Linked DNA regions of Homo sapiens: regions 2, 3, 4 and 5 are each linked to region 1. The links come from fine-mapping of genetic effects on gene expression. A gene starts in region 1. Each other region holds a variant in brackets. All regions are shown on one strand. Distances are between the middles of the regions.

What was found. PIP is the estimated chance that this variant, and not a neighbour inherited with it, causes the effect.
Region 2: its variant is fine-mapped to the expression of EVL in monocytes (TOPMed, PIP above 0.99). The same link has a PIP of 0.9 or more in blood mononuclear cells.
Region 3: its variant is fine-mapped to the expression of EVL in whole blood (INTERVAL, PIP above 0.99).
Region 4: its variant is fine-mapped to the expression of EVL in platelets (CEDAR, PIP 0.95).
Region 5: its variant is fine-mapped to the expression of EVL in subcutaneous fat (GTEx, PIP above 0.99).

The regions. Positions count from the first base shown.
Region 1 is chr14:100,063,084-100,068,186 of GRCh38, reverse strand. It overlaps EVL (Enah/Vasp-like), which reads right to left and starts at 2,765. Exons shown (of 14, transcript NM_016337.3): 1 at 2,676-2,765. The coding sequence starts at 2,686. LOC124903379 (a long non-coding RNA gene) reads left to right here and starts at 4,143. Exons shown (of 2, transcript XR_007064329.1): 1 at 4,143-5,057. RefSeq lists enhancers at 390-459, 1,892-1,961, 2,022-2,101, 2,482-2,621, 2,672-2,751 and 2 more.
Region 2 is chr14:100,092,734-100,097,836 of GRCh38, reverse strand. EVL (Enah/Vasp-like) reads right to left here. Exons shown (of 14, transcript NM_016337.3): 3 at 179-356. Among named protein-coding and RNA genes, the nearest start is that of MIR151B, 14 kb to the left of the region's middle. The variant C/G (reference allele first, on the strand shown) is at 2,768.
Region 3 is chr14:100,118,973-100,124,075 of GRCh38, reverse strand. It overlaps EVL (Enah/Vasp-like), which reads right to left. Exons shown (of 14, transcript NM_016337.3): 4 at 474-537. Among named protein-coding and RNA genes, the nearest start is that of MIR342, 12 kb to the right of the region's middle. The variant A/G (reference allele first, on the strand shown) is at 2,134.
Region 4 is chr14:99,951,960-99,957,062 of GRCh38, reverse strand. No RefSeq gene overlaps it. Among named protein-coding and RNA genes, the nearest start is that of EVL, 110 kb to the left of the region's middle. The variant G/AG (reference allele first, on the strand shown) is at 1,971.
Region 5 is chr14:99,944,126-99,949,228 of GRCh38, reverse strand. It overlaps LOC102724682 (a long non-coding RNA gene), which reads left to right. Exons shown (of 6, transcript XR_007064328.1): 1 at 1-29; 2 at 1,121-1,294; 3 at 3,755-3,906; 4 at 4,682-5,103. It also overlaps the pseudogene RNU1-47P. Among named protein-coding and RNA genes, the nearest start is that of EVL, 120 kb to the left of the region's middle. RefSeq lists an enhancer at 2,188-3,116. The variant A/G (reference allele first, on the strand shown) is at 2,843.

The DNA of each region.
Region 1 (5,103 bases):
TGGCTGCCTCATGTCCCCACATGTCCCCTAAGGCGTGGCCCAGTCACTCTCTACCACACTGCTCTATTGTTTTCACGTCTCTTGTTGATGGTTTCTTGACTATATTCTGCCTCCCGACTCTGCCCTCAGTTTGAGGACAAGACTGCCTGTCTTGTTTACCACTGTGTCCCTAGCACCCAGAGCAGCCGCTGGGTGACTGGTTGCCTGTGATGCCTGCCAGTGCCTTCTAAAAAATCATCCCTATTCTTCAAAGTTCACCTGAGATCCCACTTTCTCTTTGAGGTCTTCCCTGACAGTCCCCAACTTCTCAACTCTTACTGCCCCTCCTGTCTATGCTTATTACTCTCTGTGCTGCAGGGTCCTCACAGCCAGTCGCCTCCTCATTTCTGTGAGTGCTGTCTTCCTCACTCCCTACCAGTCCCTGAGGACAGAGGCAGCTCTAATTCAGGCGTAAGAGCAAAAGGGCAAAGCATCTGTGGTCAGGAGGCACAGGTTCAAGTCCTGGGTCTATCACTCACTGGCTATGTCTCTTGTCAAGTTACTCTCTCCTGTGAAACAGAAACAATAAAAACAATGCTAGCTGGGTGTGGTGGCCCACACCTGTAGTCCCGCTGAGGCAGGAGGCTTGCTCGAGCCCGGGAGTTTGAGGCCAGCCTGGGCAATAAAGCAAGACCTCATCTCTAAAAAATACAAAAACAAAAACGCCCCACAACACTACCTTCAGGATTATTGCGATAACTAAATAACGTCAGTGAAAGCATTCTGTACGTTGTCATGCACTCAAGAGAATTCCCAGCTCCTAATCCAGTCAGGGCTTGGAAACTGTTTCTTGATTGGTGGGTAGCCAGAGCTAGAGCTGGTAAGATATATTTTCACATTTAAAAGGTCCTTTGTATCCCCACCACAGGCGCCACGGTATCCCCATGTGTCAGTCAGCATGAGGAAAAACGAAAAGTTCACAGCTCCTATGGCTGCTGACCTTGCAGCTCCACGAACGCTGCTTCCACCAGGACTGTCACTATGGTGCCAGGCCAGGGACCTGTGGCAGAGTGCAAGCAGCCTTGTACGGGGGAGGGACGCACCAGAAAACCTGGGCTTTTGCTTTGGTTCAGCCACTACTCCGCTCCCCGTACACAAATTCTGCTCCACACTGGGCCTCAATTTCCTGATCTGCGCACTCAAGAGCTGGGCTAGATTAGTGTAATCTTCAGACTTGAAAGTCATCACCACCACCAACAATGACTGTTTTTTCTCAATGAATTATCAAGGAATACATAGAAAACATAAAAGCAGAGTTATTTTGGCTGAAGTGGAGAATAAGGTGCCCAAAACATCTTATCTACTGTAGATCACCTCCAAGGTCTTTTCAAGATGGAAATTTCTAGGATTTCTACGATTTTAAAATTGAAAAAGAAATTGCTGTGCCTCATTTACTTTTGATATAATTTTCTGCAATTAGTAATTGACACGGTAGAATAAGCTGCTAGAAGTTTTCACAATGTAATTTACAACTGAAAATGACTTTGGAAGTTGATATGCCTTTGAAATGAAAAGCATTCTGTTTTCTAAAGCTCCACTCACGAGTCCTCTAAAGTTAAAGGAAAGTTACTAAAATGACAGGATCAGAAATAAAGCCAACTGGAAAATAAGCAGCCCTGGACAAGTTCTACCTATCACCACGTCAATTTTAACAACTCACTGCAAGCTGCTTCTGTGCCTGTGTAGCGTGCTGCGAAAACCACCGGATGAGGCCAACCTCGTTAAACCCTGGTTCCATTCCTTCCCCAACCTGCCATGTGACCTTGGACAAACCCCACAACTTTTCAGAGGTTTTCTCAGCTACGAAACAGGAGTGATGACAGCGTTCTCATCAATCTAACACGGCTAAAAGATTCAAATAAGAAAACTGGCGAAATGGCACTTTGGAAATTGTGAAATAATTTTCAAAGTGAGGGATTGTTACTTTATGCTAAAAAACAAAGCTGTCATGAGTCAATCAAACAAATGCCCCAAACCCCACAGGATAAAAGTCTGTCTGTCCTATCATCTATAATCTTTCAGAGTTGTAGGGCAGGGGAGAGGCAGGTCCAAAATGTAATCTCACCTTTAGAGAGAACAATCTCAATGAGGAGTGCGGTTTGTAGACTGGCTGGTATTCACACATGTGCTCAACAGCAATAGCCTAAGTCCACAAGTCTCTCAAGTGGAGGGTCAGGACTCTTGCTATTAAGTTCATGAAGTTCCTATCATAAAAAGAACCCTCTCTGCCTATATTTAGAAAAAACAACCAGTCTCGGGTCATTCTAGAGAGAAGGGCCAGGACTCACCAAATGTACCTCTGAGCTAAACAACAATTCCCCTAGATGGCTCAGACCCTCCTCCCTATAATGAGAGGCAGGTGCTAATTTCTAAGTAAGTCCTTGACTCAGAAGCCATTAAAGGTCACAGGCATCAAGAGACACAGGCCTGTGTAATGGAAAGACCAGCGGCTAGAGAGGGAGCAGACTGTCACTAACCTGCTGTGTAACCTCATGTAAGCCCCCTGCCCTCTGGTCATGGACTTCTCGATCAGTATACTAAGGGGACCTGAGATAATTTCTACAGCCCATTCACCGTTAAGATTCTAGGTTTCCTCTTGACATCCCTCTGTCCCCTGCACTGGTTCCAATACTCACCTTGTGGCCATGGCTGAAAAGTGGCAGCACAGGGAACCCTGAGGAGGCGAGTCCTGTACTCCCACCAGCCTATGTTGATCAGAGGACCACAGACCCTCTGAAGACAGCAACTTGATTTTTATAGCCTACTTAAAACCAAACAGGAAAAGGAAGCTGAACCAGAGACAAAGGGGAAACAAACCCAAGTGAAAAACTGAAACCTAGGTAGAAAATAGAGAAACAAGAAGCTAACACTGCAGAGCCCCACCAGCGTGGGCGGCTGAGAGGCACTGCACAGGCCCAACCCCCCACAGCTGGCAACCTCAAGCCTCTAAGTGCTTCCTGCAAGGGTGCAAGGGTGGGTGAAGCCTGCTGGAGGTAGGGGCCAGGTCATGGTGCTGGCCCCCCACTAACTAGCTCTATAGTCTAAGTCAATGCCACTTAAGATGTCTGAGCTTCAGTTTTCCATCTGTTATAGAAAGTGCAGGCTCAGCACAGATGACTTCCTATAGGCCTTAAGAAAAGGCTACAAGAACTCGGAAGAGTCCCCACTGACTCTCCAGAGAATAGAAGACTAGATGATAAAGGCTATAAGCTGATCAAGTCTTTTTTTCTTTTTTGAGACAGAGTTTCACACTCCTGTCACCCAGGCTGGAGTGCAATGGCACGATCTTGGCTCACCGCCACCACAGCTTCCTGGGTTCAAGCGATTCTCCTGCCTCAGCCTCCTGAGTAGCTGGGATTATAGGCATGTGCCACCATGCCCAGCTAATTTTGTATTTTTAGTAGAGACGGGGTTTCTCCATGTTGGTCAGGCTGGTCACGAACTCCCGACCTCAGGTGATCCGCCTGCCTTGGCCTCCCAAAGTGCTGAGATTACAGGCGTGAGCCACCGCGCCAGGCCACTGATCAAGTCTTCATATTTGACTCTGGAACAAAATTTGTACTTCTACCGAGGAGACAACTCTCTCTAATGATGACATTTAAGTCAGCAATTTAGAGCCTGAAAGGAAAACACTTGAGGAATACTGGAAACTTGGCTTTGTCACTTGTTTATTAAGTGGGTGGCCTCAACTGTAAAATGGGGTTATACTTATTTTGCCTATCTCCACAGGGTTCTCATGAAGGTAAGATCCAGTCCAATCTTTCTTTCAAAATCTACTGAGAACTCACTAAGAAGCATGCACTGTGTTAGAAATCACAGACAAAAAATTGAGAACGACTGTACTTGTCCTTAAAGGACTTTTATGGTTTAGAAAAGAAGAGGTTGATAATGTTAGCAAATATTTAATAGATCCATTAAAATATTATTGATATAGTGAAAAACAGCTGTACAGAGTACAGTACAAAAGAAGTATCAGTTCTAATTGGAGAGATGAATGCACTTTGAATGCTAAAAATGCATTTTAAAAGGCTTTTAATGATATACATTTCCCTTTAAGCACTGTTTTAGTTGCAAACCACAGTTTGGATGTATTGCAGTTTTCTTTTTTCTTTTGGTTCAAAATATTTTTAATTTTCTCTAGTGATTTCTTCTTTTATCCATGGATTATTGATAAGTGCTTCGTTAAATTTTGAAATATTTGGTGTTTTCCTATATCTGTTGCTACCTATTTCCAATTTAATTCTACTGGGGCCAGAGAACATATTTGGTGTGACTTCTTCCTTTGTTTTTCCTGGTATGATCTCAATCCTTTCACATTTATCAAAATGTGCGTTATGGCCCAGCATGCAGTCTACCTTGGCGGATGTAGCATATGCACAAGGAAAGAATGTGTATTCTGAAACTGGTCGGGTGCAGTGTTCTAGAATGTCAATTAGGTCATGGTGGTTAATAGTATTGTTCAGAACGTCTACGTCCTTGTTACTTTTTGTTGCTGTTGTTTGTTTTTGTCTAATTATTCTATCAACTGCTGAGGGAAAGGTCCTGAAATCTTCAACTGTGACTGTGGATTTCCCTCTTTAATTCTGTCACTATTTCTTGAAGCTCTTGTTAGGTACATTTTTCCATGCAGCATTGGTTTTCTGCGGCTGCTGTAACAAATTACCACAAACTGAGTGGCTTATAACAACACACACTTATTATCTTAGAGTTTTGTAAGATGATAGGAGGTCAGAAGCCCAACATCATCAGAAGTTCCACATAGGTCTCTCTTGCTCACCTCTCTCAGCTTCTGGACACTGACTGCATTGCTTTCTCATAGCCCCTCTGTCCACTTTCAAAGCACGCAGCAGTGCTCCGACCCTTCTTCCACAGTGACATCTCTTTCTGACCGCGGTGTGGACAGGTTCTCTACTTTTAAGGACTCGTGTGATTAGACTGGACCCAATGGATAATCCAAGATAACCGCTCCATCTCAAGGTCCACAACTTTAATCACGTCTGCAGAGTCCTTTTTGCCATGTAAGGTAACATTTTATTTATTTACTTTTTTAGAGGCAGGGTCTCT
Region 2 (5,103 bases), 30 kb before region 1:
CCTCTGAATTGTTAATATCTCTAAATCTAAAGGCAGGCAGCAGGTTTCTCTGAGAACACATGCAACCTCAGCTCAATGCAGTGACAGTGCTAGGATACCCGGAGAGCCAGAGCTGTGGGAGGGCAGAGGTAGAACAAGAGAGGGTCTCAGCATCAGGCCAAGACAAAGCCCTACTTACCTCCTTCTTGGGAATTCATGATGTTCAGGGCAAACAGCATTGCATTGGAGAACGTGGTTGCCTCTTCTTTACTTGCAAAGTTTAAGCCGTAGACCTGGCGGGCATCTCGCCACTGGTGGAAGGTTGGCGTGGCCTGATTGTACTTCAGCCCTTTCACGATTGAATAATTGATCACAACCTGGAGGAGAAAGGAGAGAGAAATACGTGTAAATAAATAAAATGTAAGTGAGCTCGAGGGCGCTGCGATGGAGCAAGTATACTGTATCCTTGAGAGGACAGGAAGATGGGGATGGGGTTTGAAGAAGGGAAAAGCAATATCAGGTAGACTTTCAGACCATAATCTATAGAACAGTGAGGGTTTGCAAAACCTGTTCTTTCCTTTAACTAATAATGCTATGTAGTTACAACCTCCAGATGAACAGCTGAGCTGGGAGGCAGGTTCCCTGGCTCTGGTTTGGCCCTGCCTCTCAGCCACTCCACTCATGGCAGTCACTGCACTTTGCTGGGGCTCAGTTTCTCCACTTATAAGATGGGGATAATAATTCTGGCTTTACCAATCCAATGGGGTTACTGCGAAGATCACATTGTGATACGTATCTTATTTATAGCTTACCTTCTAGATATAAAGCTCCTAAGGGCAAGTCTTCTATAATTCATATTTATGCCTCCTATAGCCCTCTGCATAGTGTCTAGTACTTTGAATGCATTAATAAGTGGGCTATGTGTCGAAAGAATAACTTGGGAAAGTTTATGTACCACACATGTATACAGCATTATTCATATCTTATTACTCAATCAAAAAGCATCAACTGACTGCCAGGAGCAATGCCAGGCCCAGCAGGGAAGGATACAGAGACGACAGAATCCAGACATTCAGGTGCTTACAAGCTGCTAGGGGATTCAACACCAGGTCTGCCTGACCTCTAAACTTCTGCTCTTTCAGAGATTTAAAAGAAGATTATTTCAAAGTACTTTAAGACTATATTCCTAAGTCGTGCCCTGGAGGAAAAGATGCTGGGGCTGGAGCCCTCATTCTGCTTCCCATCCCTTCTAGCTTGGAGTCAGATGATCTAACATCATGACACTTATGAATGATCGGTTTTCTGGTCTGTCAAATGGAGAAGAATGTGATATGGCTATGGCATGGCACCCTCACAGTGTGTTGTGAGGATTAAATTATATATGAGAAAGTAACTGACACAGCTCCTGGCACAAGGTAGGCTGCCAGTGACTGAATGGAGAAATATGAAGATCTCTACGAATGGAAGTATGCAAGCAGAGTCTGGATGAGGCCGGAGAGCCAGCTCTTAGAGACGCCATGGAAAGGATTTTGCTTTAGAAGTACAAGATGATTTCTCAGATTTTGTCTGGCTTTAAGGTTGCAAGGACTGTGTGATCTGAGGTTGGGGATAACGCTCTCTATGCTGATTTATCACTTTCCTTTATTGCTCCACACTGCTGTGCTGCTGGATAAGGTAAAGCCAGAGGACAGCAAACATGAGTGACATCCAGAAAAGCTGTTTTCCAAGTCTTGGGTGGAAGGTGGGCTTGGGTCTTCCTATGACAGGCACAGGCAGGGAAAGAGGGGACACACACACAGTACACTAAATCAGCTAAAAAAACGTAATTGAAGCTGGGCATGGTGGCTCACACCTGTAATCCCAGGACTTTGGGAGGCCAAGGTGGGCGGATCACCTGAGGTCAGAAGTTCAAGATCAGCCTGGCCAATATGGCAAAACCCCGTCTCTACTAAAAATACAAAAATAAGCCGAGAATGGTGGTGGGTGCCTGTAGTCCCAGCTACTTGGGAGGCTGAGGCACGAGAATCGCTTGAACCCAGGAGGTGGAGATTGCAGTGAGCCGAGATTGCGCCATTGCACTCCAGCCTGGGCAACAGAGCCAGACTCTGTCTCAAACAACAACAACAACAACAACAAAACCTGTAATTGTTTCACAACTTAATTGTTACATATTGACAGGCACATATTTTGGCCAACAACTACACACAAGTTCCAGGGTAGTTCTCTGTTTTTTTGCTCTTTGTGCCAGGGGTATAGATTCACATGCACACACAGCTAAACCAAAAGAACTAGACTGGGGGTGACTAGGTTTAGTTATAGGTCATCAGAAAAAGGACTCATAAGAACTAGCAAATAATAACTAGTAACTAATAACTACCAAATAATAAGAACCAGCAAAGTTAACTGTTGTGAAAACAGCTCTTTAGATTATAGGACACATTAACAGTGGTACAGTGACCAGCATGAGGGAAGAGAAGAACCTGCTCCATTCTGCCCTGGTAAGTCCCTATCAGAAGTTCTGTGTTCAAGTTTTTTGTTTTCATTTTTGGTGTTGCATTTCTAGTGGACAGTAGCAAACTGAAGCAAGCCAGAGGAAAATGCTTTAAAAATTGAAGAAGGTCTTGAAACCACCTTATATCAGGAATGGTTAAGAGATACTGAAGCAAGATAAAAGATACTTTAGTGTCTCACGACTACTGTCTCCAGATACGTGAGGAGATATTCTGGGGAAATGAAATTTAGAACCCTATGATTTGACTTGATTTAAAACAAAAAAAATTTTTAGTAC[C/G]GTTTTTGTTTTGTTTTGTTTTGTTTTTTTAGACGGAGTCTCGCTCTGTCACCCAGGCTGGAGTGCAGTGGTGCGATCTTGGCTCACTGCAACCTCCACCTCCCGGGTTCAAACGTTTCTCCTGCCTCAGCCTCCAGAGTAGCTGGAACTATAGACGCCTGCCACCACGCCCAGCTAATTTTTTGTATTTTTAGTAGAGACGGGGCTTCACTGTGTTAGCTGGGATGGTCTCAATCTCCTGACCTCGTGATCTGCCCGCCTCGGCCTCCCAAAGTGCTGAGATTACAGGCGTGAGCCACCGTGCCTGGCCCGTAGTATGGTTTTTTAAGATGGAGTCTTGCTCTGTCGCCCAGGCTGGAGTGCAGTGGCACGATCTTGGCTCACTGCAGCCTCCACCTCCTAGGTTCAAGTGATCCTCCTGTCTCAGCCTCCTGAGTAGCTGGGACTACAGGTACATGCCACCATGCCCCATCCAATTTTTTTTTTTTTAAAGTAGAGTCAGGGTTTCACCATGTTGACCAGGCTGTCTCGAACTCCTGACCTCAAGTAATGCTCCCGCCTTGGCCTCCCAAAGTGCTGGGATTACAGGCATGAGCCACTGGGCCTGGCCTAGAACCCTATGATTTGAACTCTCTGGTTGGCTACATTCTTAGAGAGGAACTTAAGATGAGTGAGAATTTTTCTTTTTTTCCAAACCTCAAAGTGGCTCTTGGGGGGGAAATGAGAATTGAGGGGCAGATGACGCCTAATCCAGAATATGGACAATATGGCCAGCAGACAACCACTGAAGGGGCTAAATAGCACCTTAGGGATTATCTAACTCAATCCGCTCTTTTTACAGTCAGGAAATGAGGTCCAGGGAGAATGAGTGACTTGTCCAAAGTTACACAGTAAGCTAATGGGGAAATTGGATTTAGAAGCCGAGGACTTCGTGATTTTTTTTTGTTGCCAGTATGGTAGTCCCCGCTTATCCATGCAGAATTGGTTCCAAGACCCCCAGTGGATACCTGAAATGTGGGTAGTACAGAACCCTATATAGACTATGTTTTTTCCTATACATACATACCTATGATAAAATTTAACTCATAAATTAGCCATAGTCAGAGATTAACAACAATAACTAATAATAAAATGGAACAATTATAATATTTGGAATGGCACATAATTTAAAATTTATGACTTATTTCTGGAATTTCCCATTTAATTAATATTTTCAGCCTGCAGTGGATCTTGGGTATGTGAAACCTCAGAAAGCAAAGCCACAGCTAAGTGGAGGACTGTTGTATAATGAGCTGAAATCCTTCTTCCTATAATTCCCTCTCTGGTCCTAGCACTAACCTTTGGAGCCTCATAAATCACTTCCAACTCAGGAAGTTTTAGGATATGGGACTGAGAGAGTGCAGTGAAGCCTTTCTAGAGGACGTATCCCAGTTCTGTAAGTTCTCTGGGCTCTGCCACACATGCTTGGTCGCTGATTGAAGGCCCCTGGCCCTGCCGTTTCTGTTCTATCTACAACTGCAGTACAAAGGCTGCTCACCAACTGCTGCTGTTTGGTGTCTACACACAGCCCCCAACGGTCTATGACTGCTTTGAAGACAAGCATACTAGGTACAAGGAATGAGCAGAGGGTTTTACGTCAGAGGGTTCTGCATTAAAACCCTGGCGTTATTACTTTTCAGCTGTATAACCTTAGACAAGTTGCTCATATCAGTTTCCTCACATGTAAGATGAAGATAATATTATAAATAATACTGCACTGAATATTCCTGTGAAGATGTATTTCTACAGGATATATCCCTGTAAGCCAAATGGCTAGAGAGACATGACCATTACAAAATTTATATTTATTATTTGAAAATTGACTTCTAAAACAGGAGAGTCCAGTGCAATGTGTTTTGGATGTATGTGCAGTGACACAAGGCCAATGTCACTTGACCATTTGTTGAGGTGGCCAGTGTTTATTAACTGCCAGACCTGACCAGCCAACAGCTAAAATCTCAGTACCTAATGGTTCCACCTCTTTGTTTACTCTGCTTAGAGTGAGTCAAAGGATCCACCTGAACACGTGCATTTTTGCAAGTCCACTTTTGGGTGAGGCTGCTTCATTTAGTACCCATCACCCAACACTCACTTGTAGAGATAACCATGTTTCTTATTTCTAACACCATTGGCAAAATGTGTCTGTTCTTAAGCTACATAGAAATGGACTCCTGTGGTATATGGTATGTACTCTTTTGTTTCTGGCTTATTTCCCTCAACACAATCTTTATGAGATTCACCATGTTACCGCATATATCCATATTTCATTCTTTTTGTTTGTTTGTTTGTTTTTTTGA
Region 3 (5,103 bases), 56 kb before region 1:
GCCTTGGCCCTTCCTCTTCCCCACTGTGGTAACACTTTAGAAGCTCCATGGGGTGAGGGGGTTCATTCCTATGGTCCCTAGCCCCATCCCATGGGCGTGACTGCCCCAACAGGCTGAATCCCTCATGCCTGGACTGCCTCCTGCTACGTTGGGGAAGGGCAAGTGAGGCAACAAGGGAGCAGCACTTGGGCCCTGCTGGGTCACCCTGAGAGCCGTCCCGCTGGAGGTCAGCAGCACTCTCTGTAGAATGCCAGACTCCCACAGTCATTCCTGGTCTTGGTGTCCGGGACCAGCGGCTGCGCATCGGCCCCCTCTTTCTTCCTGGTCTGGCTTGCACCTTGCACCCTCCCGCAGTGTATGCCTCTAGGAGTCCTGGCCTTGGCTGCTGGTGCATCCTCACCCGCTGAAGGCACCCCTGGCCACCCAGCCTGATTGGGAGATGACCAGCCTGGCCCCTGCGGGTGCTGGGTTACCTTCTCTGGATGTCCATCTCATCAGGAGAGGGGCCATTCTGCACCTGACGCTGGCTGGAGGGGCCTGTGGGCAGAGAAGCACAGAAACAGTGTGGTTAGAGGAAGAAAGGCCCCAGCAAACCCAACTGGAGTGCTCTCTATCTCTGCCCACCTTCTGGCTGCAGAAGAGACATCCTTAAGAATCTTTTTAAATGTTGGCCTCACTCACACCTGTGCATCACTCACTCCATCTCCTCTCTCAATCACCCTCTCTCTCTCACGGCTCTTCATTCTGAACCAATAAATGAGACCCAAACTTTCACATGGTTAAAAATTAACCCTTTCAGTTACTGACCCTGCTCGCCTTCTCTCTCAAACTATCTTCTCACTGCTTCGACCTTCTTGCTGGCCACCACCCCCTCAACCCTTTAACATTGAATCTGGCCTCTTTACATCCCACCAGGATGTTCTAATTAAAATCAGCGGGGAACTGGGAATTGCCAAACCTAACAAGTCCACTTGATTCCACTTTCTGAGCAAAGGACTGACACTGACAGCTGGCGGATGTCTTGGTCAGAGTTAAAACCTGGGTGTGTCTGAGCTGAGGCCTATGCTTCTAGACCTGGGGTGACCCCTGCTGTCTACAAAGGGTGTCTGGAGCTGCGGGTGGGAAGGAGCCAGACCCTGCCCTTGCTCCCCTTGTTCTAGACTGGTGTGGAACTTTCTGGCCACACCCTGCCCTGGACCCTGAAGGAGGGACCCCGGCATAGGCGAAGTCTGCTGTGCAGACCTCCTGTTCAGAGGAGGCTGGAGCTGGGGCCTGTGCAGGGCTTCCCATGCTGTGCCACAGTTAAGCTTCTGCCGCCACCTAAGAAAGAGCTGACTGTTCCTTCTCTGCCAGCTCAGGTGTCACTAGGGAACTGCAGAGAGTCGCAGTGACTGGGAGAGGGACTCTGGGCAGGCTGCTCTCATACCTCCCTGACAAGATGGGGAAGTGGCTTTGTTTCTGCCGCAGGATGGGGTCACAGCAATATTCAAGTTACAACTGCACTGATGATGTGGGGACAGCCCTGTTCCCTCCTACTTCATAGAGGACCAAGGTCTTAGTGGTTCTTCCCTCCTTGTTCTCAAGAAACAGAAGGAATGAATATGTGAACATTATTACCAGAGCAACGTCCAGGCACTTTTTAAAATTTAATGTTAAATTTAACTCTAATTCTCACAGCCCTATAAGAAGGCTCCCATAAGGACTTGTAACAGCTGGGAAGCCAGGCCCAGAAAGGCTAAATGGCTTGCCCAAGGTCTTACATACAGCAAGTGGCAGATGCAAACCAACTGCAAATGCCACGTTCTTTCTTAAACTCAATCAGACAGTGGTGTCAGATTGAGACCAGCTTGAAGAAAGAAGGATGAATGTGGCAGACTCATAAGCTGCCCTTGGATGGTGTGCAAGGTGCTGTGGGCATGTGTCCCCCCGCCCCCTGACTGCCACTCATCCTGGCTGAGGCGGGAGGGATTCCTGGCGTTTCAGCTCCACGTCCGGGACTTGCACCTGAGCTGCTCTGCTGTGAGCTTGGCACAGGCTTTGGGCTCTGGCTTGGACAACTGGACATCTGCCTTGTTCTAAGACCGGGTCTCAACGGCTGAGTTCACTCCTGGATCTGGATTTTGTCCTTCTGGG[A/G]GCTGAGTCCCTGTCCCAGCGACCCTGTCTAGCATTTGGTCTGAGGGTTGGCCCTGCCCTAGGATGGAGGCCTTTCCACGCTTGGGCTCCACCAGCTGTCGCAAGATCCTTCTGTGTCTGTGGTCTGGCCTTGCCCAGGTCACTGTAACTGTTTTCCACCCTTGTCAGGACCCCGATGGCAGCCAGCTGCCCACACACAGGCCTGTGTGGTTGTGTGCTTTGGATTCCCCATTTTGCCTGCTGGGCTGACGTCCTCCCAACACCCTCCCAACCTGTTTCTCCAGAGGCTGGGAAAGTCTAATAGGAGCCCTGGCCCTTCCAGAGGGCTCTGGCCCCTGCACCTAAGACCTGATTAAAAATTGGCTGGAGTTTTAGACCCGACAGAGCAGGAAAGGATAACACTTGATTGCACTGATTACGTAAGGCTTGCCATTCTTCTTAAACGAAGAAAATGTTCAATTGTTTTGAGCCACCATGGCCCTGAACATTATAAAAGTACAGTCCTTTTGTTTTAGGGGTGGGAGCTAAGGCCCAGCAAGGCGCAGGGGTCTGTCCAATGTCACCCAGGGTAACTGTGACAGACCTGAGGTTCCCATCGCCCCCTTACTCCTGGCCTCCTCCGTCCCCCGGCACAGCTTCCCCGTGGCAGTCGGGGGGAGGGACAGGGAAGGTCATTGCTGCAGACTGCTGGTGGCCCTTGGGAAGCTCCAAGCAGCAGCCCCTTGGCAGGTGCTTGTTCAGTGGGAGGAGTAGCTAAGGAAGGCTCCTGGCTGCTAGTAATCAGACTCCCTCGTGTCTAGTGGTGAGGCACTACACATGACTTCCCTGCGTGATGCAGGCAGAAGCCAAGGCGGAGGATGTGGCACCTGTCCCGTGCTGCAGATGAGCACCTTGGAGCCACCTCTCGTCGCCCGAGCTGAGCTTGGATTCCACAGGAGTCAGGGCGATGGGGATGGTGGGAGTCCCAGCTCTTCCCTCTCTGCCTCCCACGGCTCGTTAGGTAACGGAGTCTTGTTGGTGCTGTGTCGGCTGCCCCACAAAACACCCTGCTTCTCTGCTGCCACCTGGCAGCCTTGGCGTCTCTCTCTTGGACCCTCACCTCCACTCTCTCTCATTCTGACAGTGTGGCCTAAGTGATGTCTGGGAAACACAGACATGACCTGCACAGGGTTGGGTCCAGGCTCCATTGAATAAGATTCAAGGTTTCAGCCTAGGCCCCAGGCCACCTTGTGGCTGCGCCTCCCCGACAGTCCTCCATAGCTGACCTCCTGCACCTGGACACTGGGCCCGGCCCCACCATGCTTCCTGTCTCTCTGTGTTTTGTGCGCTACTCAACCCATGTGGGTCACCTTTTCCTGCCGTCTCCACCAAGCAAGGCTTCCAGGCCCAGCTCAGTGGTCACCTCTTCCATGAAGCCCTCCCCAGGTCCTCATGCTCCTTCTCACCAACCGGTGCCCATGCGCCTCTCTTAAAAACTGACAGCTTTCTCACCCATATTCCAGTAATTTGGGAGCTGCCTTCTTTTCTGTACTAGACCCTGGGCTTCTTGCAGGCAGAGAGCACGTCTCACTCCGCACTCCACGCTCATAGCCTGGCTCGCATCAGACACTTAGTTCATATTCCACTGAACTAAGTCAGGAAGGGGAGAGGGGGCTCAAGCTCACTCACCCTTGGGGAAAAGTTCAGGTGAAGGAGTCATGCTGAACTGACTTGAGTGAAAAGAAAAACCTAGGAGGTGAGCCACGGAGATATAGGGATTAGAAGGGGTCCCCCAAGTTCATGCTTGTCCAGAGAGGATGCAGCAGTGTAACGATGCCCTGCCAGCACCAGGTACCCTCTGCTGACCAGAGGCCTTAGGGACAAACTAAAGTCACAGAGCTGCTGACCCAGCCTTTTTCTCAGGGCTGTGAGTTTCAGATGCCTTTCTGCTAGAGGACCCTGTGGCTCTGCACACAGTGGCAGAGCGCAGAGTCACCTTCTGTGGCCATGAGGTGCCCTCCTTTGTACAGTGAATGTATGGCAACGATGGTCTGCGGATCACATCTTAATTGTCTTGTTCCCATGAGGTACTAACCTGGGCAGGCAGTGGGCACGAGAGGACCTGGCCTAAGTTCTGCCTCACATCTGCCTAGTCATGCACCCCTAGGCAAGCTGCTGTGCCCTCATCTGTAAAATGGGAGTCCTAATACACTAACGCTAACAGTGGTACCTCACCAAGCTGCGGTGAGGAATAAACAAACTCTAGGAGTAAAAACCACATGGTAATCCATAAAGTGCTGGAAATATTTGTTCGCATTACTGTTGAAAGCACACTGTTGATCTTTCTGCTGAGTTGGACGGGAACCTGCCTATGTGCTGGCTTAAGTGGCCCTCTGCCCCCCAAGCCTTGCTGGTGTGGTCCCCTCGGTGGAGCGCTTTCTTCTCCACAGGCTGCGTGCACTCACTGCCCAGCTGGTTCCACCACGGCCCCCTGAAGTATACGGGATGAGTGGTGGTGGTTCTCAGGGGTGAGGGGACTTGCCCAGAGCCACAGGGTTTGTGACGCTGGCCCCAGTGTCCCAAGCTTGTTGAGTCTGGGAGCTGATTTTGCCGAGGCAGGGGCCTGGCCCATTCACCTGGGACTCCAACTAAGAAAACTCTCACCCTCTTCTCATTCATCTCAGACAAATTTTGTCAAGTCAAAATAAAGAGGATGAGATAGGAAACAAGCATGAGAAGAAATTCAAAAATTAAAAAAGGAAAAATAAAAGAACCCATCATGCCACAGACAAATGAAAAAGAGAAAGGGAAATTTCAGGTCCAACATCAAACAAGAGCAGGGTGGCTGGGCATTCATGGTGTCATGTGGGTCCAGCCCTTGGTGGCAGGGCTCACCACTGGTAGCAGGACGGGCCATAGGTTCCCTGGCTGACCTCTTCTCTGAACACAAAGAGCTGCAGGAGGACAGAGGCTGAGACCCAGCCAAGGCTC
Region 4 (5,103 bases), 110 kb after region 1:
CAGCACTTTGGGAGGCTGAGGTGGGCGGATCATTTGAGGTCAAGAGTTCAAAACCAGCCTGGCTAACATGGTGACACCCCGTCTCTACTAAAAATACAAAAATTAGCCGGGTGTGGTGGTGGGTGCCTGTAATCCCAGCTATTCGGGAGGCTGAGGCAGGAGAACTGCTGGAGCATGGGAGGCGGAGGTTGCAGTGAGCCGAGATCCTGCCTCTGCACTCCAGCCTGGGAGACAGAATGACACTGTATCTCAAAAAACAAACAAACACACAAAACAGAACAAAAAAACCCAGCAAAATAAATAAAAAGAAATTATGAGGAGGAAATGAATAAAGATAAAAGCTGAAAATAGTGAATTAGATAACTGAAATACTGAAAAATAAAATTAAAATATGCTTCTTCAAAAAAAAATTGAAAACTCACAATGTGCAAGAAATAAAAGAGAAAAAAAAGCACAGAACAGAAGGAATGAGAAATGAGACAGACTCACAGGGGCAAATGAGAGGAAGTTAATTTCCAGGGGATGTTATTGCAGTTGCATTTCAATAAATGTCCACCTGTTCTACATGCAATGGGTGATTTTCTTAAAAATCAAGTAAGTAGAAATGTTGGTAATAGGGGAACTTAAATTGGAAGAATTTTAAAACCAAACTATACCTGGGGGCACCTGGGTGGTTAACCACTGGGGGAAACCAGCCACCTCGGGCCGTCCTTGAAAAGATGTGCATTGTAACTGTGAATAACTGAGCAGGCTCCTGTCAAGACAATAGTTGAGAACCATCCCAAGACTGAGCCAGGAGCCCGGCAGGTAGACCCCGCTCTGCCACCCTTCACTGTGGGGATTTGGGCAGGTCCTTCCTCTCCCTGAGCCTCTGTTTCCTCCAGAGGCCGCTCCAAGATGGCAGACTCTGGAGCCCCGTGGGGCAGGTGGAGGTGGCCAGGGCAGGGGGTGTTAGGGAGGAGGAAGGAACAAGATAGGGTGAGAGTGCTTCTGAGTCACCACCACCTCTGACTGCTTCTGCCAGAGCAGCCCCATTCTTAACCTTATTACAGAGTGGATTTTCTTGTATGATTTCATCTGAAAAAAGGTTTTGCTGCTGGTATTAGTCAGGGTTCTTCAGAGAAACAGAGCCAATAGGATGTATAGTGTATAGACAAATAGAAAGAGATTTATTATGGGGGATTGGCTTATGCGATTATGGAGGCTGAGATGTCCCATGATCAGCCATCTGCAAACTGGTGGCCCAGGAAAGCGGGTGGTGTGGTTCCAGTTCACATTTGAAGGCCTAAGAACAAGGGGAGCTGGTGGTGGGAATCCCAGTCCAGGTCCAAAGGCCTGAGAACCAGGAGCTTCAACGTTCTGGGGCAGGAGAAGATTGATGTCCTAGTAGATGTCAAACAGAGAGAGAAAGTTCGCCCTTCCTCTACCTTTTTGTTCTGTTCAGGTTCTCAACAAGTTGGATGATGACCCCCCAGCCCCCCCACCCTACCCCCGCATTGGTGAGATCAAGCTTCCTTAGTCTACTGATTCTCTTCTGGAGACACTCGCAAACACCACCAGAAAGAAGGTTTGACCAGCTCTCTGGGCATCCCTTAGCCTAGTCAAGTTGACACATGAAATTAACCATCACACTGTTGAAACAAAGTGTGAAAACCAGGTGATCCCCCAACTTCCGAGCTACTTCCACGTCCAAACTTCGTAACATTCACCTGGCAAAGTTCACTGGTTTTGCTTTGATAACTTTCTGGTTTCTTTGAGTGATAAAGATGTTCATAATTTAGCCCCGAAATGGAGATGAATATGTGTGTGACGTGTGTGTGTGTGTGTGTGTGTGTGTGTGTGTGTGTGTGTGTGTTCCTTCTTTCGCAAAACCACTGCCTAATTTGGAATATAATTTCAACTTGCTTTTCCAAAATGACCTAGAGCTTGGCAAGAGCATAGGGCTGATGAGCCTGTGAGGTGGGTAGATA[G/AG]CTTCCTCACACATGCCCGACTTTCTCCTTGGAGAATGATGAGGTTTACAGCCTTTAGGTAAAAATAGCTTTGTGTGGCTTCCGCCAGGAAGACACTTAAAAAGGGAGAGAGGATTAGGTTGCTAAAAAAGAAAAAAATCTACCAAATTGCTACCATAATTTTGGAATTCATTTTTGCAAAACATATCAGAAGACATAAAGATGATCTTGCCTGCTAACTCAGTAATTCCACTTCTGGGCATTTGCCTCAAAGAAATAAATTTAACTAAAAGAAAAGCTCAGTGGACAGCTGCTCACTGCAGTCTCCTCTGCCATAGCAAAACACCCAAAGCAAGAAAAGATGCTCAGGGTGAAGTGTGAAGGGCAAAGGGTACTGCAAGTTCAGAGGCTCACAGTCCACTCCTTCATGTATTCACCAAACACTTCTGATAACATGTGGGCACCAGGCACTGTGCTAGGTGATGGGAAAGAAGAGTGCCCGAGATGCAGAGTGCTTCCACCTTAGGGTGCTGATTGGCAGAAAGGCTGGAGGCACATAAACCTACACCCACAATTCAGCATGAGAAGGGAAGTACAACAGAGGTGGGGACACAGAGGAGGGACAAGAACCAGCCTTGGCACTCAGGGAAGCCTTCTCGGAATAAGTGACTTTTTATTTTTTTTTGAGACGGAGTCTTGCTCTGTCGCCCACACTGGAGTGCAGTGGTGCAATCTTGGCGCACTGCCACCTCCGCCTCCTGGGTTCAAGGGATTCTCCTGCCTCGGCCTCCTGAGTAGCTGGGACTACAGGTGCCTGCCACCATGCCCGGCTAATTTTTGTATTTTTAGTAGAGACGGGGTGTCACCATGTTGGTCAGGTTGGTCTCGAACTCCTGACCTCAGATGATCCACTGGCCCTGCCCTCCTAGAGTGCTGGGATTACAGGTGTGAGCCACTGTGCCCTGCTGGAAGTGACTTTTGAGCTGAGTTCTGAAAGTTATGGTGGTTGGCCAGAATGATGAGAGGAAGAGGGTTGGGGGCACAGAGCATGAGCAAAGACCAGGTGGCAACGAGAGGCTGCCGTGGTGGTTGGACAGAGAAAAGCTCTGTGGCAGGAGCTGAGAGATGGTGCTGGAGAGGAACCAGAGCTCACTGACCGGTCCTGTGTGTAACATGAAGGAGCTTTTTCCTAAGAATTTTTAAGCAGGAGAGTGATATGGTCAGATTTATGGTTTGGAAAGGTCACTCAGACTGCCTGGAGGAAGGTCAACATGGCTGCAGCCAGGCCAGCAGTGATGGTGGCCCTCCAGGGCATAGGCAGCATCCGTGGAGAGATGACGTGGACACGTGCCCTGGCTCCTCATGGAGCAGAGCCCTCGATTCTGGAAGAGGCAGAATGGTGCTGTGGTTGAGTGTGATCTTGGAAACCTGACTACATGGGTTAAAATCCCAATTGTTTCACTGTGTGACCCTCTCACAGGGCTGTTGAGAGTGTTGAAGGAGCCGTCATGCATAAGGCACCTCCAACAGTACCTGGCAAGGGGTGGGTAAGAGCTCGCTGAGTGATGCTATCGAGGTTGTCACTTATTGGCTGCTTGCTGATACAGGCAAGAGGAACACCCACATGCCTGGCATGGGCCACTGGGAGGATGGCATGCGGGTTTTTGGGGGAGAAGTGGATGAATTGGGTTTGAGCATGTAGAGATGGAGGCTCCAGTGAATGAGCAGATGGAGACATCCTGCAGGATGTTGAACACAGAGGTTTGAAGCTAGGAGACAGGCTGAGTCAAAGATAGTGATTGGGACCTTGTAAGGGTTGAAGAGGCGGCTGGCCCCAGGGAGCTGATGAGATAACCTGGGGAGAAGGTGGAGGGAGAAGAGAAGAGGGCCCCGAGAGAGCTCTGTGGCAAAGGGATGGACCAGGAAGGTTTTTTTCTAACAGGAAATATTTGAGCCTGTCTAAATGTTGATGGAAGGAGCATATAAAGCACAAGTACACTGTGGAGAAATGGCATTCAGTAAGGGTGGCCTTTAGTATTTTTTATTATCATCATTATCACCATCATTACCACCACCATCACCATCACCACCATCACCACCATCACCACCATGATCACCAGTGTGAAAGGAAAATATCTTGGGCCCCTTCAAGCTGGGAACCGCTCAGGACAAATCTGCCTCTCATTCTATTCAAAGTCATCCCTCTGCTCACAGAGATACATGCATATTCTGATTGCCTCCTTTGGAAAGACTTATCAGAAACTCAAAAGAATGCAACCATCTGTCTCTCACCTACCTGTGACCTGGAAGGGAAGGGGTGGGGGGGTTGCTTTTAGTTGTCTCTGCCTTTTTGCATGGAACTAATGTAATTCTTACATATATTCATTGACGTCTCATGTCTCCCTAAAATGTATAAAACCAAGCTGTGCCCTGACCACCTTGGCACATGTTGTCAGGACTTCCTGAGGCTGTGTCACGGGTGTGTCCTGAACCTTGGCAAAATAAACTTTCTAAATTAACTGAAACCTGTTTCAAACTTTGGGAGTTCACAACAGTATCACCACCATCATCATTACCATCATCACCACCATCAGCATCACCACCATCATCACCACAATCATCAGCATCACCACCATCACCATCACCATCACCTCAGCATCACCACCACTATCACCACCACTAACACCGCCATCACCATCACCATCACCTCAGCATCACAATCATCATCATCATCACCATCACTATCACCACCATCACCATCATGTCAGCATCACAATCATCCTCATCATCATCACCATCACTATCACCATCATCACCTCAGCATCACAATCATCATCATCACCACCATCATCAGCATCACCACCATCACCATCACCTCAGCATCACAATCATCGTCACCACCACAATCACCATCATCATCATCACCATGATCATCAACATCACCATCACCTTCATCATCACCATCACCACTAGCAGCAGCATCACCACCATCACCACCACCATGAAACATCACAACCATCATCATCACTATCACGCCGTAACCATCTCCACCATTATCACCACCATGATCACCAGCATCACCACATCATTGGCATCAACATTATCACCATTACCATCACTGCCATCATCAGCACCACCACCACCACCATCATCA
Region 5 (5,103 bases), 120 kb after region 1:
ATCCCCTTGGTGCTTCCTCGTGATAGCAAGTGAGTTCTTGCAAGATCTGGTTGTTTAAAAGCATGTGGCACCTGCTCCTCTCCGCTGTCTCTTGCTCCTGCTTTTGCCATGCGAACTGTCTGCTCCCACTTCACATTCTGCCTTGAATAAAAGCTCTTTGCTTTGAGGCCTCCCCAGAATCCAAGCAGATGCTGGCACCGTGTTTCCTGTACAGCCTGCAGAACCATAAGCCCGTTAAACGTCTTTTCTTTTTTTTTTCTTGAGACAGAGTCTTGCTCTGTCGCCCAGGCTGGAGTGCAGTGGCATGATCTCAGCTCACTGCAACCTCCACTTCCCAGGTTCAAGCGATTCTCCTGCCTCAGCCTCCCGAGTAGCTGGGACTACAGGTGCGCTCCACCGTGCCTGGCTAAGTTTTGTATTTTTAGTAGAGATGGGGTTTCACCATATTGGCCAGACTGGTCTCGAACTCCTGACCTCGTGATCTACCTGCCTTGGCCTACCAAAGTGCTGGGATTACAGGCGTGAGCCACCGTGCCTGGCCATGCCCAGCTAATTTTTGTAATTTTAGTAGTGGCAGGGTTTCACCATTTCAGCCAGGCTGGTCTCGAACTCCTGACCTCAAATGATCCATCCACCTCGGCCTCCCACAGTGCTGGGATTACTGGTGTGAGCCACCATGCCCAGCCATCTTGTCTTTATAAATTACCCAGTCTCGAGTATTTCCTTTTCTTTCTTTCTCTTCTTTTCTTTCTTTCTTTCTTTTTTTTTTTTTTTTTTTAACGGAGTCTCACTCTGTTGCTCAGGCAGAAGTGCAGTGGGGTGATCTCGGCTCATTGCGACCTCTGCCTCCTAGGTTCAAGCCATTCTCCCACCTCTGCCTCCCAAGTAGCTGGGATTACAGGCATGGGTCACCATGCACAGCTAATTTTTTTGTATTTTTTATAGAGACAGGGTTTCACCATGGCCAGGCTGGTCTGGAACTCCTAACATCAAGTGATCTGCTTGCCTCGGCCTCCCAAAGTGCTGGCATTACAGGCATGAGCCACCGCACCCGGCCTTCAGGTATTTCTTTATAGCAGTTTAAGAACAGCCTAATATACCCTCTTTCTTCTCTTCAAAGAGGGGCGATGGATCCTGCTTCTCGGGTCTGTATGAGATGAGATGAAATGACAATTCCTAATATGGATGAGGAAGTGGAGCAACAGAGACTCCCAGGCTGCCAGTGGAGCTGCTGTGGAGAATGGTTTGGCAATATTTAATGCATGCCCCAGAAAATCAGTAGTCCCATTTCCAGGTAGGATCCCAGATAATTTCTTGCAAACATGTACAAAAAACTTGTGCAATAATGTTTGTGGTTATGTAACTGGATGTTGAAATGAGCGTTCAGCCGAGGAGCCAAGATCCAATAGATGTGTCTTCCAGAGGCACTGTTAGACCATGAGCAGCAGTTACAAAAGAGGTTCCCGAGACACCTCCTGGGCATCCTCATCCACGATAAGAGTACTAAAGCGTTGGGAATTAGACATTTTCAGAAGTAATATTTGCAAGGAGGATTTCTTTGGGAGAAAGTTGAGCTGCTGATTCCAACCCTGCTTCTCCTGAGGGAGGACCAGGGAGGGTACTTCTGCCTAAGCCACTTGGAGGGCTTGAGGTGTGCCATCTGCGATTTGTGGACCAGTGCCTCAAAAGCGCCAGCTGCCCAGAGAAGGCTGCATGTGGAAGGCAGTAACTGCCCACCCACTGGTGCAAGGTGTGGGTGTGGGAGGCACAAGTGTCCCCTGAGACCAGATGTGAACCTCCAAGCAAGGATCCAAGCAAGGTCGTCTAAGATCCTGTCTAGCGGGCTTCCCCGGAGGGCGGTGGGATCTCCGCAGGAAGGAGGCCGATGGAGGCAGCCCTCCCGGTGCTTCAGGGCTGCAGAAGGAGGCCGCACCTAAACAGAACACCTTCATTCAGGTCCAGGGGACTGCAGCTGAGAGGCGATCAGCAACGTTGGGGTTCTCCAAGAACCTCTGAAAGCTCTCTCAGAAGGTCAGTTGAAACATACGCCCCACCCAGAAAGTCAACTAGAGTTTCCCTTTCTCTCTCCACACCCCAACCCTCCCCAGGTCAGAATCAGCCCTGGCAAGCTGGAGAGAGGGGCGGTGCTCTGCTCTTCTGCCACCAGGTGGCGCACCTGCAGTTGGCCGCGGGGCTGGAGGGGGCTTGGGAAGGGGAGGTTTTCAATTTATAACCCAAGTTCAAGGTCTTTTCATAATTACTTATTCAGTCTGCTAGAGCAGCTACTCGTGTTTTCAGCCTAAATAGCCAAATTTGTTCTTAACTGGCCCGCATTATAAGCCCAGGCGTCACCTGTGTTCCAGAGCCCCTGAATCTCACGTCCCCTCCGGCTTCCCGCACGCCGGGGTCCCCTGAGATCCGGGGCAGTCAGCGAGAAAGTGTGTGCTACCCGCAGCCCCGCCCCAGCTCCCTAGCGCAGGGTGGTGTGCGCGTGTGCCCCATTTTTATTGAAACTTAGAGTTGACCTGCGGACCCCCTGGAACGCCCCAGGAGGGCACGGACTTCCTGCAGGGGAGGCTCCCCTTAAACAAGCCTCCTTCCTTCAAGAGGGAACTTGGTACTCCGAAAGGCTTCTGTGGTCCGGTCTGGCTTGCCAGCAAGGTAGGGAAGATCCAGGCTGTCTGGCCCAGAAGGGGGTCTCCTGAGGTGGCCTAAAGCACAGCCAGGGATCCGGCAGGAGATGGAAGGAGCCCAGGTTTCAGACAGCACTGAGCATCCCGTCTGCAGGAGATGGGGAGGGGCAGGGATGCCACTAGGCATCGAGCAGCGGGGTCAGGGGGGA[A/G]GAATTGGGCTCTGGAGAAGGGTTCAGAACTGGGGGCTGCACGCTCGACACCCGACCCTGAACTGCTCAGCAGGGAGGCCAGGCAGCTGTTCTAGGCTCCTGTGCAGCCAGGCTCTGAGACACAGCATCAGGCTTGACAGCCCGAGAAACTGAAATCATCAAGTTTGTCAGCTGTGATGATGTCATGGTGTCCTCACACAAAGTGTCTTCACCACAGCGGCAGACTGAAGTATTTATAGGTGAAACGACATGGTGGCTTAGACTTGCTTTTTTTTTTTTTTTTTTTTTTTTTTAGAGACAAAGTCTTGCTCTGTCACCCAGGCTGAAGTGCAGTGGCGCAATCACAGCTCACTGCAGCCTCCTGGGGTCAAGCGACCTTCCCTCTTCAGCCCCTGAAGTAGCTGGGACTACAGGTGCACTCTACCACATTCAGCTGAGTTTTTAGTTTTTTGCAAAGATGAGGTCTTGGTATATTGCCCAGGCTGGTCTCAAAGTCCTGTAGGCTTGTTTTAAAAAATACTCCATCTTGGCCAGGCACGGTGACTCACACCTGTAATCCCAGCACGTTGGGAGGCTGAGGTGGGCAGATCACGAGGTCAGGAGTTGAGACCAGCCTGGCCAACATGGTGAAATCCTGTCTCTACTAAAGATACCAAAAAGTTAGCTGGGCGTGGTGGTGCGTGCCTGTAATCCCAGCTACTCGGGAGGCAGAGGCAGGAGAATTGCTTGAACCTGGGAGACGGAGGTTGCAGTGAGATGAGATCATGCCATTGCACTCCAGCCTGGGCAACAGGGCGAGACTCTGTCTCAAAAATACAAAAACAAAAACAAAAACTCCATCTCCCCCAAAAGTTAGGGGAGACAGAGGAAACAAGATTTTCTAAATGTTTGATTTTTTTTTTCTTTAACCAGGGGAAAGCATGAACACAGCCCCCATGACCACAGATGACGCAGCCGAGTTTCCCACTTTTGGGGAAATTGCAGGGGTCAGCACGTCTGGAGTGCAGTGGATAAGCCTCACCCCAGGAAGACCACTTTCGTGATCACGGCATCTCCCCTGCCAGGTGAGTACGCTGATCATTTTTAGTCTGGGTGAGAGGCTCTCTCTACTTTTGTGTATGTTTGAAATTTTCTGTAAAGTTTTTTTTTTTTTTTTTTCAGACTGAGTTTCGCTCTTGTTGTCCAGGCTGGAGTGCAGTGTTGTGGTGTCGGCTCACTGCAACATCCGCTTCCTGGGTTCAAGCGATTCTCCTGCCTCAGCCTCCCAAGTAGTTGGGATTACAGGCATGTGCCACCACACCCGGCTAATTTGTATTTTTAGTAGAGACTGGGTTTCACCATGTTGGCCAGGCTGGTCTCAAAACTCCTGACCTCAGGTGATCTGCTGCCTCGGCCTCCCAAAGTGCTAGGATTACAGGCGTGAGCCACCACGCCTGGCCAAAGTTTTTTTTAAAAAAGAGAATCTGCAGGAAGAACAGGTCTGGAGTCAGTTTTCACCTTGCATCAAGCGCATGTTCCCTAGCTCCTTTTCACCAAAACCTGTCCCCCTAGTTGTGGATTGGACCATCCCCATCTACCCTTTCCTATGCGCTCCTGTGCCTGTAAGATAGGATGACAGCAGCCTGTTCCCAAACCACAGAAGAGATGGCTAATGAATGGAATAGCCAACCTTTGGGCGTGGGAGTAATCATTCAAAAAAATGTGGGGGGCTGGGGAGATGCCAGAATGGGCTTTCCAGTGAAGCAAAGACAGCCCCTGCCAGGGAGTCCCTCTCACCCCGGCGGCCAGGACCTAAGATCTACCAATGCCAAGAATCCACTGAACTTTGCCTCTCCCCAGTTCCAACCGGCCTGGAAGCTTCCTCCACCTCCACACCCCCCGCCCCCACTGGGCTGACAGCCCAGTGCGACCCGTGGCCTCATGTTCTCTCTTCCCTACGTGGCTGAGGCTGTCCCCACCTTGCCTGGATCTCCTGCCTGGCACTGCCTGCGCATGGAGATGCTGGAATGCCGGTTGCTAAGCCAGTGCAGAGTCCACACTGGCTCCTGGCAAGCACTGCATCGAGCTGCCCTGCTGCTGCAGACGCAAGATCCTCCACGTGTGGGACTGTCTCCTGCTCCACCATGGCCCTCCTGGCTCTCGCTCCTCTCCGGCAGCCCACTTACCTGCCCTTGGATTCTGGAGTCCCCCAAGCTGGCTTGGGAGCCTCTTTTGGCCTGGGTTGAGCAACCTACAATCTCAAGCACACCTTGGCTCCCAAA